Linked DNA regions of Homo sapiens: regions 1 and 3 are each linked to region 2. The links come from fine-mapping of genetic effects on gene expression. A gene starts in region 2. Each other region holds a variant in brackets. All regions are shown on one strand. Distances are between the middles of the regions.

Region 1 (2,672 bases), 320 kb after region 2:
GGACAAGGTTGATCACTGACAGCCACTAAAGATGGGAGAAACAGCTTGGCAGCCAGCACTGGGCACATGGCAGGCAGTTAGTTGCTGGAGGCCAGATACCCAGAGGGAGGAGGTGGTAATGGGCAGTGGTGATAGCGACTAGAGTGAGACAGTGACAGAAGAATGGGAAGAGGCATCCAAGTGGGTCAGAGAAAAGGAGCAGTGTGAAGTGTGGCAGAGGACATGGGGTGTGGAGGGTGGTGGCAAACTTGTAGTCTAAGCTTTGCCTTATGGTTGGGAGAAGAATAATAAAGGCCGAGGTACATTTGCATTTCTTGGTGGTTCCTATCCAACTCCATTCAGTGAGGTTGTTCCTACAGGTACCCAGTCTCCCTTGGAGATGCCCCATGGGTGGTACTGGGGAGAATAGAGACATCTTCCCTCTCCTGACCGGGTGCAGCCGGGTCAAATTCGGTTTGACCCAGCAGACCTCCTTTTTTAGGTTGCTGACTCCCAAGCAGGTGGCCTGAGGAAGTGGAGAAAGATGGACATCATTCCCATCTGGCTTCCTGCCCATCCCAAACCTGGTCCTCCAGCCCCCAATCAATTCTTCTTCTTCCTTTTTTTTTTTTGTTATTGAGATGACGTTTTGCTCTATTTTTTTTTTTTTTTTGAGACGGAGTCTGGCTCTGTTGCCCAGGCTAGAGTGCAGTGGTGCGATCTCAGCTCACTGCAAGCTCCACTCCCGGGTTCAAGCGATTCTCTTGCCTCAGCCTCCCAAGTAGCTGGGACTACAGGCGCCCGCCACCAGGCCCGGCTAATTTTTTGCATTTTTAGTAGAGATGGGGTTTCACCGTGTTAGCCAGGATGGTCTCGATTTCCTGACCTCATGATCCACCCGCCTTGGCCTCCCAAAGTGCTGGGATTACAGACGTGAGCCACTGTGCCCGGCCCCGTTTTGCTCTTGTTGCCCAGGCTGGAGTGCAGTGGCGTGACCTCGGCTCACTTCAACCTCTGCCTCCTGGGTTCAAGTGATTCTCCTGCCTCAGCCTCCCAAGTAGCTGGGATTACAGGCGTCTGCCACCATACCTGGCAAATTTTTTGTATTTTTAGTAGAGACAGGGTTTCACCATGTCAGCCGGGCTGGTCTCAAACTCCTGATCTCAGGTGATCCACCCACTTCGACCTCCCAAAGTGCTGAGATTACAGGCATGAGCCACCACGCCCAGCTGCCCCCAATCAATTCTGAGAGCCACCTTCACCCTGACAGATAAACACATAGACACACACTCCAAAAGGCTGGGATTACAGGCATGAGCCCCTGCGCCCTGCCCAGACCCTGTTCTTAATGTAAGCAAGTGAGTGTGTCTTTGTTTTTTTGTAGGTTTTTTGTTTGTTTTGTTTTTGTTTTTTGGAGACAGTCTCACTCTGTCACCCAGGCTGGAGTGCAGTGGTGTGATCTCT[G/T]CTCACTGCAACCTCTGACTCCCAGGTTCAAGCAATTCTCCCTGTCTCAGCCTCCCAAGTAGGTGGGATTACAGGCACCCACCACCATGCCCGCCTAATGTTTGTATTTTCAGTAGACACGAGGTTTCGCCATGTTGGCCAGGCTGGTCTCGAACTCATGACCTCAGGTGATCAATCCTCCTCAGCCTCCCAAAGTGCTGGGATTACAGGTGTGAGCCACTGTGCCTTACTTCGAATTCACCCAGAAGCAAACCTTGAGGCAAGGATTCAAGTGCAAGAAGTTTATTTGGGAAATGGTCCTAGGAAATACTGACAGAGGAGTGGAAAGTAAGACAAGGGAGGGAAGAGAACCAACGAAGGGTGCATCGTCGAGCAAGTCACTGCAGTGGCTGCTGGTGCTGCCTGGCTGGACACCTCTGGGAGACAGTGTAGAAGGGGACTCCACATTTTCCTTATCCACCCGCTGCCACCTGCCATTGGTTGTGGGCTGCTTCCAGAGGCTGTTGGCTCCCTGGCACACTCACTGCCCCATGTGTGTGCAGAGTCAGTGGCCTGAGCAACCCCTGGTCAGAGACACAGAATCGGGACTGCCAACGGCCCGTGGTAGGCACCACATCCAGAGCTACAGAGGGCAATGGAGAGTTCTGGAGAGTTCTTTGGATGCTCTGAGAGAACTAGGGTAGGGTATGGTGGGCACCAGAAAAAAAAAAAAAGTTCAGTTTGAGAGAATGTCAGACTTAGTGACATCCTTTACCAAGGCTTTCTAGGGATCATGGGCATTGAGTTTGAACTTGCAGATGTGGGAAGGAAAGCCCGCTGGAAACAAAAACCTCCTGTGCCACATCCCACTGCAAGAGCCAGCCTGCTGGGAGGCAGCCTGCTGGGCTCTAAGGCAGAGTTGGGAGGGCAGGAGGCAGGTGAGTGGAGGTCCCTGGTAGCAGTGTCTCCCGGCCTCCCTGCTCCCATGGGGCCCCTGCAGCCACCAGCCTGGCTCCACCCAAAGCCAAAGATGCCCCTTATTTATTATTATTATTATTATTATTATTATTATTATTATTATTGACACAGTCTCGCTCTGTCACCCCAGGCTGGAGTGCAGTGGTATGATCTCCGCTTACTGCAAACTCAGCCTCCTGGGTTCAAGTGATTCTCCTGCCTCAGCCTCCCGAGTAGCTGGGATTACAAGTGCCTGCCACGACCCCTGGCTAATTTTTGTATTTGTAGTAGAG
Region 2 (2,672 bases):
AGGCTAGACAGTATCCCCCCTGCAGATATTTTGAGTCACGGAAATGCTTTCTTTGGATGAAACCTAACGTCCCTCCCCTCTCTGAGGCTGGCGCCCCCCCAATATGGGGCTGCTGGGAGGCTTCGTGTGAATGGAATTCTTGTTCTTTGCAGTCCCCAGGCCTGGACAGGCCTGGCAGCTGAGTCTGTCCTCCAGGGGACAGGCTCGGCCACCTTGAGCAAGTCGTGAGGTCTCTTTGGACCTTGTTGCCTGGTGCCTGCCCTCTCCCATCCCCTGGGGGCTGATGAGGCTGGGACGAAGAGAATCTCTTGGTTGTTGGGAGATGGTGTGCTGTGGCCCAGACGGCAGAGGACTGGGCCTCATGCCTGGGCTCGAATCCCAGTTTGCCAGGGCCAGAGCCTCTGTGCCGTCTCCTAGAAGGTGAGCTCCCTGAGGGGCCATGGAATGAATGAATGTCACAGGGCACTAAGAGTGCCCACCTCCCAGGATGCAGCCGCAGGGTGGGGGTGGGGGAGCTGGTCGTGGGTCTAAGCTGTCTGCAGGGGGCAACTCCCAGGCTTAGGTCCTAGGTGCTGCCTGCTGTCCTCTGGGCCCACTCTCTGCCCAGGGACTTGGGCCTTGTGGGGGAGGGACCACAGAAGACTCACCATCTCGTGGGTGGAGTGGCTGAGAGACTGATGGCAGAGACAGAGGGACAGAGAGACGAAGGAGTCAGGGCAGCCAAGTCCCTGCCTGGCCTTCCAGCCCCTAGACTTTGGGAGTGGAGAGGTGGCCGACACCTGTCCCTGCAGAGAGAGGCCAAGGCAGCCCCACCCCCACCCCGAAGGTAGGGAGGGATTTCTGCTGCCCAGACCGAGTGGCTCCTGCCCCAGTGCGGCTCACAGGTCCTTCCTGCCCTGGGGTCCGGGCTTGGCTCTGCCCCTCCAGCGCGGGGGGGAGTTGGGGGCACCGGGTCCCGGGGGTGGGGGGCGTAGCGTCGAGGGTCCCGCCGCGGGGAGCGGGCGCCCGGGGTCCTCGTCCCCGCGACTCCTGCCCCGGCCGCCCCCCTCCCTGGCTCTCCCCGGGGCGGGGCCGGAGCTGGGGTACCTGGCGGCGGCAGCGGCTCGGCGGGCGTGGCGGGCGGACTCGGACCGGGCGGGATGCAGCGGCGGCGGCGGTGGCAGTGGCACAGCGCCCGGCCCAAGCGGCGCCGCTTTATATAGAAACGCCTGGGGCATGCCCAGTGCCCAGCGGGGGCGGCGCGGGGCGGACGGACCGACAGGGACCGATAGGGACCCGCCGGGGACGCGCCCCCCCCCCCCCCCGCCCGTCAGCCACGAAAACGTCCCAGACCTGGGGGCGTGTGGCGGGACACGGACCCAGCAGGAGGAGGGCACGGAGCAGGCAGGGAGAGACGGGGGTCTTCAGAGACACAGAGGAAGTCCCGACAGAGGGCCAGGTACAGATGGACAGGGACTGTCGTCGAGGGTCACAGACGTAGGGCTGCCATGAAGAAAGAGGGAGGCCCACCATGGAGAAGAGATGGAAAGGAGGGGCGGGGAGAGCCGGAGCAGGCAGAGACTGGTACTAGGGCCCGCCCTTAGGGGTGGGGTGCCCGGGAGAGCAGCCTGGAGCACACAGCCCTGAGCCCTACCTTTGGATGGAGGCCGGAGGTCCCAGCCCTGCAGCTTTCTGTCCCAGCTGCCAGCGCTTTGCCCTATTGCACGTTCTCCCAGAGAGGCCCTCCTGGGCCAGGGTCTCCACACATCTGTGCAGCCCCCTCCTCACTTCTGGACCCAGTGGACTTGCACACAGGGGCCAGGATGTCTATAAGATCCAGCCTCTCCTGGTGCGGTGGCTGCCTATAATCCCAGCACTTTGGGAGCCTGAGGCAGGAGAATTGCTTGAACCCAGGAGTTTGTGACCAGCCTGGGCAACATAGCAAGACCCTGTCTCTATAAAAAAAAAAAATTTAAACTAGCTGGTTGAGGTGGTGTGGGCCTGTAATCCCAGCTACTTGGGAGGCTGAGGTGGGAAGATCACATGAGCCCCGGGGGTCGAGACTGCAGTGAGTCCTGGTTGTGCCACTGCACTCCAGCCTGGGCAATACAGTGAGAGCCTATCTCTCTCGCTCGCTCCGCTTTTTTTTTTTTTTTTTTTTTTTTTGAGACAGAGTTTCAGTGTGTCGGCCCAGGCTGGAGTGCAGTGGTGTGATCTCAGCTCACTGCAACCTCTACCTCCCAGGTTCAAGTGATTCTCCTGCCTCAGCCTCCTGAGTGGCTGGGATTACAGGCACACGCCACCACGCCTGGCTAATTTTTGTGTGTTTAGTAGAGACAGGGTTTCGCCGTGTTGGCCAGGCTTGTCTTGAACTCCTGACCTCAGGTGCTCCTCCTGCTTCGGCCTCCCAATGTCCTGAGAATACAGGTGTAAGCCACTGTACCCAGCCGAGACCCTATCTCTCTCTCTTTTTTTTTTTTTTTTTTTTGACCCTATCCCTTTTTTTTTTTTTTTTTTTTTTAAGACAGAGTCTTACTCTGTCACCAGGCTGGAGTGCAGTGGCACAATCTTGGCTCACTGCAACCTCCGCCTCCCCGGGTCCAGTGATTCTCCTGCCTCAGCCTCCCAAGTAGCTGGGACTACAGGTGCGAGCCACCATGCCCAGCTACTTTTGTTTTGTTTTGTTTTGTTTT
Region 3 (2,672 bases), 73 kb after region 2:
GAGGTGTGACTGTACCACTGTACTCCAGCCTAGGTGACAGAGCAAGACTCTGTCTCCAAAAAAAAATAAGGGCCAAGTGCAGTGGCTCATGCCTATAATCCCAGCATGTTGGGAGGCCAAGGCAGGAGGATTGCTTAAGCTCAAGAGAATTTGAGACCAGTCTGGGGCAACAGAGTGAAACACCATCTCTATGTGGAAAAAAAAAAAATTAATTAATTCTCGTTATGTTGCCCAGGATGGTCTTGAACTCCTGGACTCAAGCAATCTTCCTGCCTCAGCCTCCCAAAGTGCTGGGATTACTGGCATGAGCCACCATGCCTGGCCAAGTTCATTCACTTTTGTTGCTGAATAATATTCCATTGTGTATTGGCCGGGCACAGTGGCTCACACCTGTAATCCCAGCACTTTGGGAAGCCAAGGCGGGCAGATCATGAGGTCAGGAGTTCAAGACCAGCCTGACCACCATGGGGAAACCCCGTCTCTACTAAAAATACAAAAAAAATTAACCAGGTGTGGTGACGCGCGCTTGTAATTCCAGCTACTCAGGAGGCTGAGGCAGGAAAATTGCTTGAACCTTTGAGGCAGAGGTTGCAGTGAGCCGAGATCGTGCCACCACACTCTAGCCTGGATGACAGAGCAAGACTCCGTCTCAAAAAAAAAAAAAAAAAAAAAAATCCATTGTGTGAATATACTAAAATGTATTTATCCCATTTATCAGCTGATGAACATTTGGGTTGTTTCCAGTTTTAGACTCTGATGGATGGAGCTGTTATAAACATTCATGTACAAGTCTTTGTGTGGGCAGGTTTTCATTTTTTCTTGGCTATATGCCAAAGAATCATATTGCTACATTATATATCATATATATATATTTGACTTTAGAGTAAACTGCCAGTCTGTTTTCCGAAGTGGTTCTACCATTTTATTTTTTTGAGATGGAGTATTGCTCTGTCACCCAGGCTGGAGTGCAATGGCACAATCAAAGTTTACTGCAGCCTCAAACTTTTGGGCTTAAGCAATCCTCCCACCTCAGCCTCCAGAGTAGCTGGTACTGGAGGTGTGAGCTGCTGTGTCTGGCCATGCTCTATTGTTTTCTTTGCTGTGCAGAAGCTTTTTGTTTGATGTAATCCCATTGGTCTACTTTTGCTTTGGTTGCCTGTGCTTTTGAGGTCCTATCTCAAAAATCCTTGCCTAGGTCAATGTCAGGAAGCATTTCTCCTGTGTTTTCTTCTAGTAGTTTTATAGTTTGAGGTCTTATATTTAAGTCTTTAATCCATTTTGAGTTAATTTTTGTCATTCTTCTGAATGTGGATATCCAGTTTTCCCAGCACCACTTATTGAAGAGACCATCTTTTCCCCAATGTATATTCTTGGCACCTTTACTGAAAATCAGTTGTGTGAATTTATTTCTGGGTTATCTATAC[T/C]GTTCCACTGGTCTATGTGTATGTTTTTATGACTGTACCATGCTGTTTTGGTTACTATAGCTTTGTAGTATATTTTGAACTCAGGTAGTATGATGCCTCCAGCTTTGTTATTTTTGCTTAGGATTGCTTTGGCTATTTGGGGTCTTTAGTGGTTCCAGATAAAATTTTTGGAATTTTTTTTTTTTTTGAGACAGAGTCTCGCTTTGTCACCCTAGCTGGAGTGCAGTGGGGCGATCTTGGATCACTGCAACCTCTGCCTCCCAGGTTCAAGGGATTCTCCTGCCTCAGCCTCCCGAGTAGCTGGGATTTCAGGCGCGTGCCACCACACCTGGCTAATTTTTGTATTTTTAGTAGAGATGGGGTTTCACCACGTTGGCCAGGCTGGTCTCAAAATTCTTGACCTCAAGCAATCCACCTGCCTTCCTCGGCCTCCCAACGTGCTGGGATCATAGGCGTGAGCCACTGCACCCGGCCAGAATTTTTTTCATAATAGTATCTTTAGAAGAACGAAAGTTTTAAAATGTGTGTGTGTGTGCGTGTGTGTCTGTGTGTGTGATGGAGTTTTGCTCTTGTTGCCTAGGCTGGAGTGCAATGGCGTGATCTTGGCTCACCTGGAACCTCCGCCTCCTGGGTTTAGGCGATTCTCCTACCTCAGCCTCCCACGTAGCTGGGATTACAGGCATGTGCCACCATGCCCAGCTAATTTTTGTATTTTTAGTAGAGACAGGATTTCACCATGTTGGCCAGGCTGGTCTCAAACTCCTGACCTCGCATAATCCACCTGTGTCGGCCTCCCAAAGTGCTAGGATTACAGGCATCAGTCACCACACCCGGCCCAAAGTTTTAAATTTTGATGAAATCCAATTTATCATTTTTTTTGTTACTGCTTTTTATGTCCTAAGAAATGTTTACCTACCCCAAAGTAACAAATATTTTCTATTTTTTTCTAGATATTTCATTGTTTTAGCTTTTACATTTAGGTTTAGGATCTATTTTTAATTTCACTGTTTCATTCCTGATAATTGGGGATTTATATTTTCTCTATTTTCTTAGTCTTACTAGGGACTTAACAATTTCATTTTATTTTATTTTATTTTATTTTATTTTATTTTATTTTTGGAGACAGAGTCTTGCTCTGTTGCCCAGGCTGGAGTGCAGTAGCGCAATCGTGGCTCACTGCAACCTCTGCCTCCTGGGTTCAAGCAATTCTCTGCCTCATCCTTCTGAGTAGCCAGGATTACAGGTGCC

Evidence for each region. PIP is the estimated chance that this variant, and not a neighbour inherited with it, causes the effect.
Region 1: its variant is fine-mapped to the expression of CARNS1 in whole blood (TOPMed, PIP above 0.99).
Region 3: its variant is fine-mapped to the expression of CARNS1 in whole blood (INTERVAL, PIP 0.91).

What each region holds. Positions count from the first base shown.
Region 1 is chr11:67,096,444-67,099,115 of GRCh38, reverse strand. No RefSeq gene overlaps it. Among named protein-coding and RNA genes, the nearest start is that of KDM2A, 21 kb to the left of the region's middle. The variant G/T (reference allele first, on the strand shown) is at 1,444.
Region 2 is chr11:67,414,178-67,416,849 of GRCh38, reverse strand. CARNS1 (carnosine synthase 1) reads right to left here and starts at 1,172. Exons shown (of 10, transcript NM_001166222.2): 1 at 1,087-1,172; 2 at 648-674. The coding sequence starts at 650. RefSeq lists an enhancer at 1-434.
Region 3 is chr11:67,341,188-67,343,859 of GRCh38, reverse strand. All of the region lies in intron 2 of LOC100130987 (a long non-coding RNA gene), which reads right to left. Among named protein-coding and RNA genes, the nearest start is that of POLD4, 11 kb to the left of the region's middle. The variant T/C (reference allele first, on the strand shown) is at 1,425.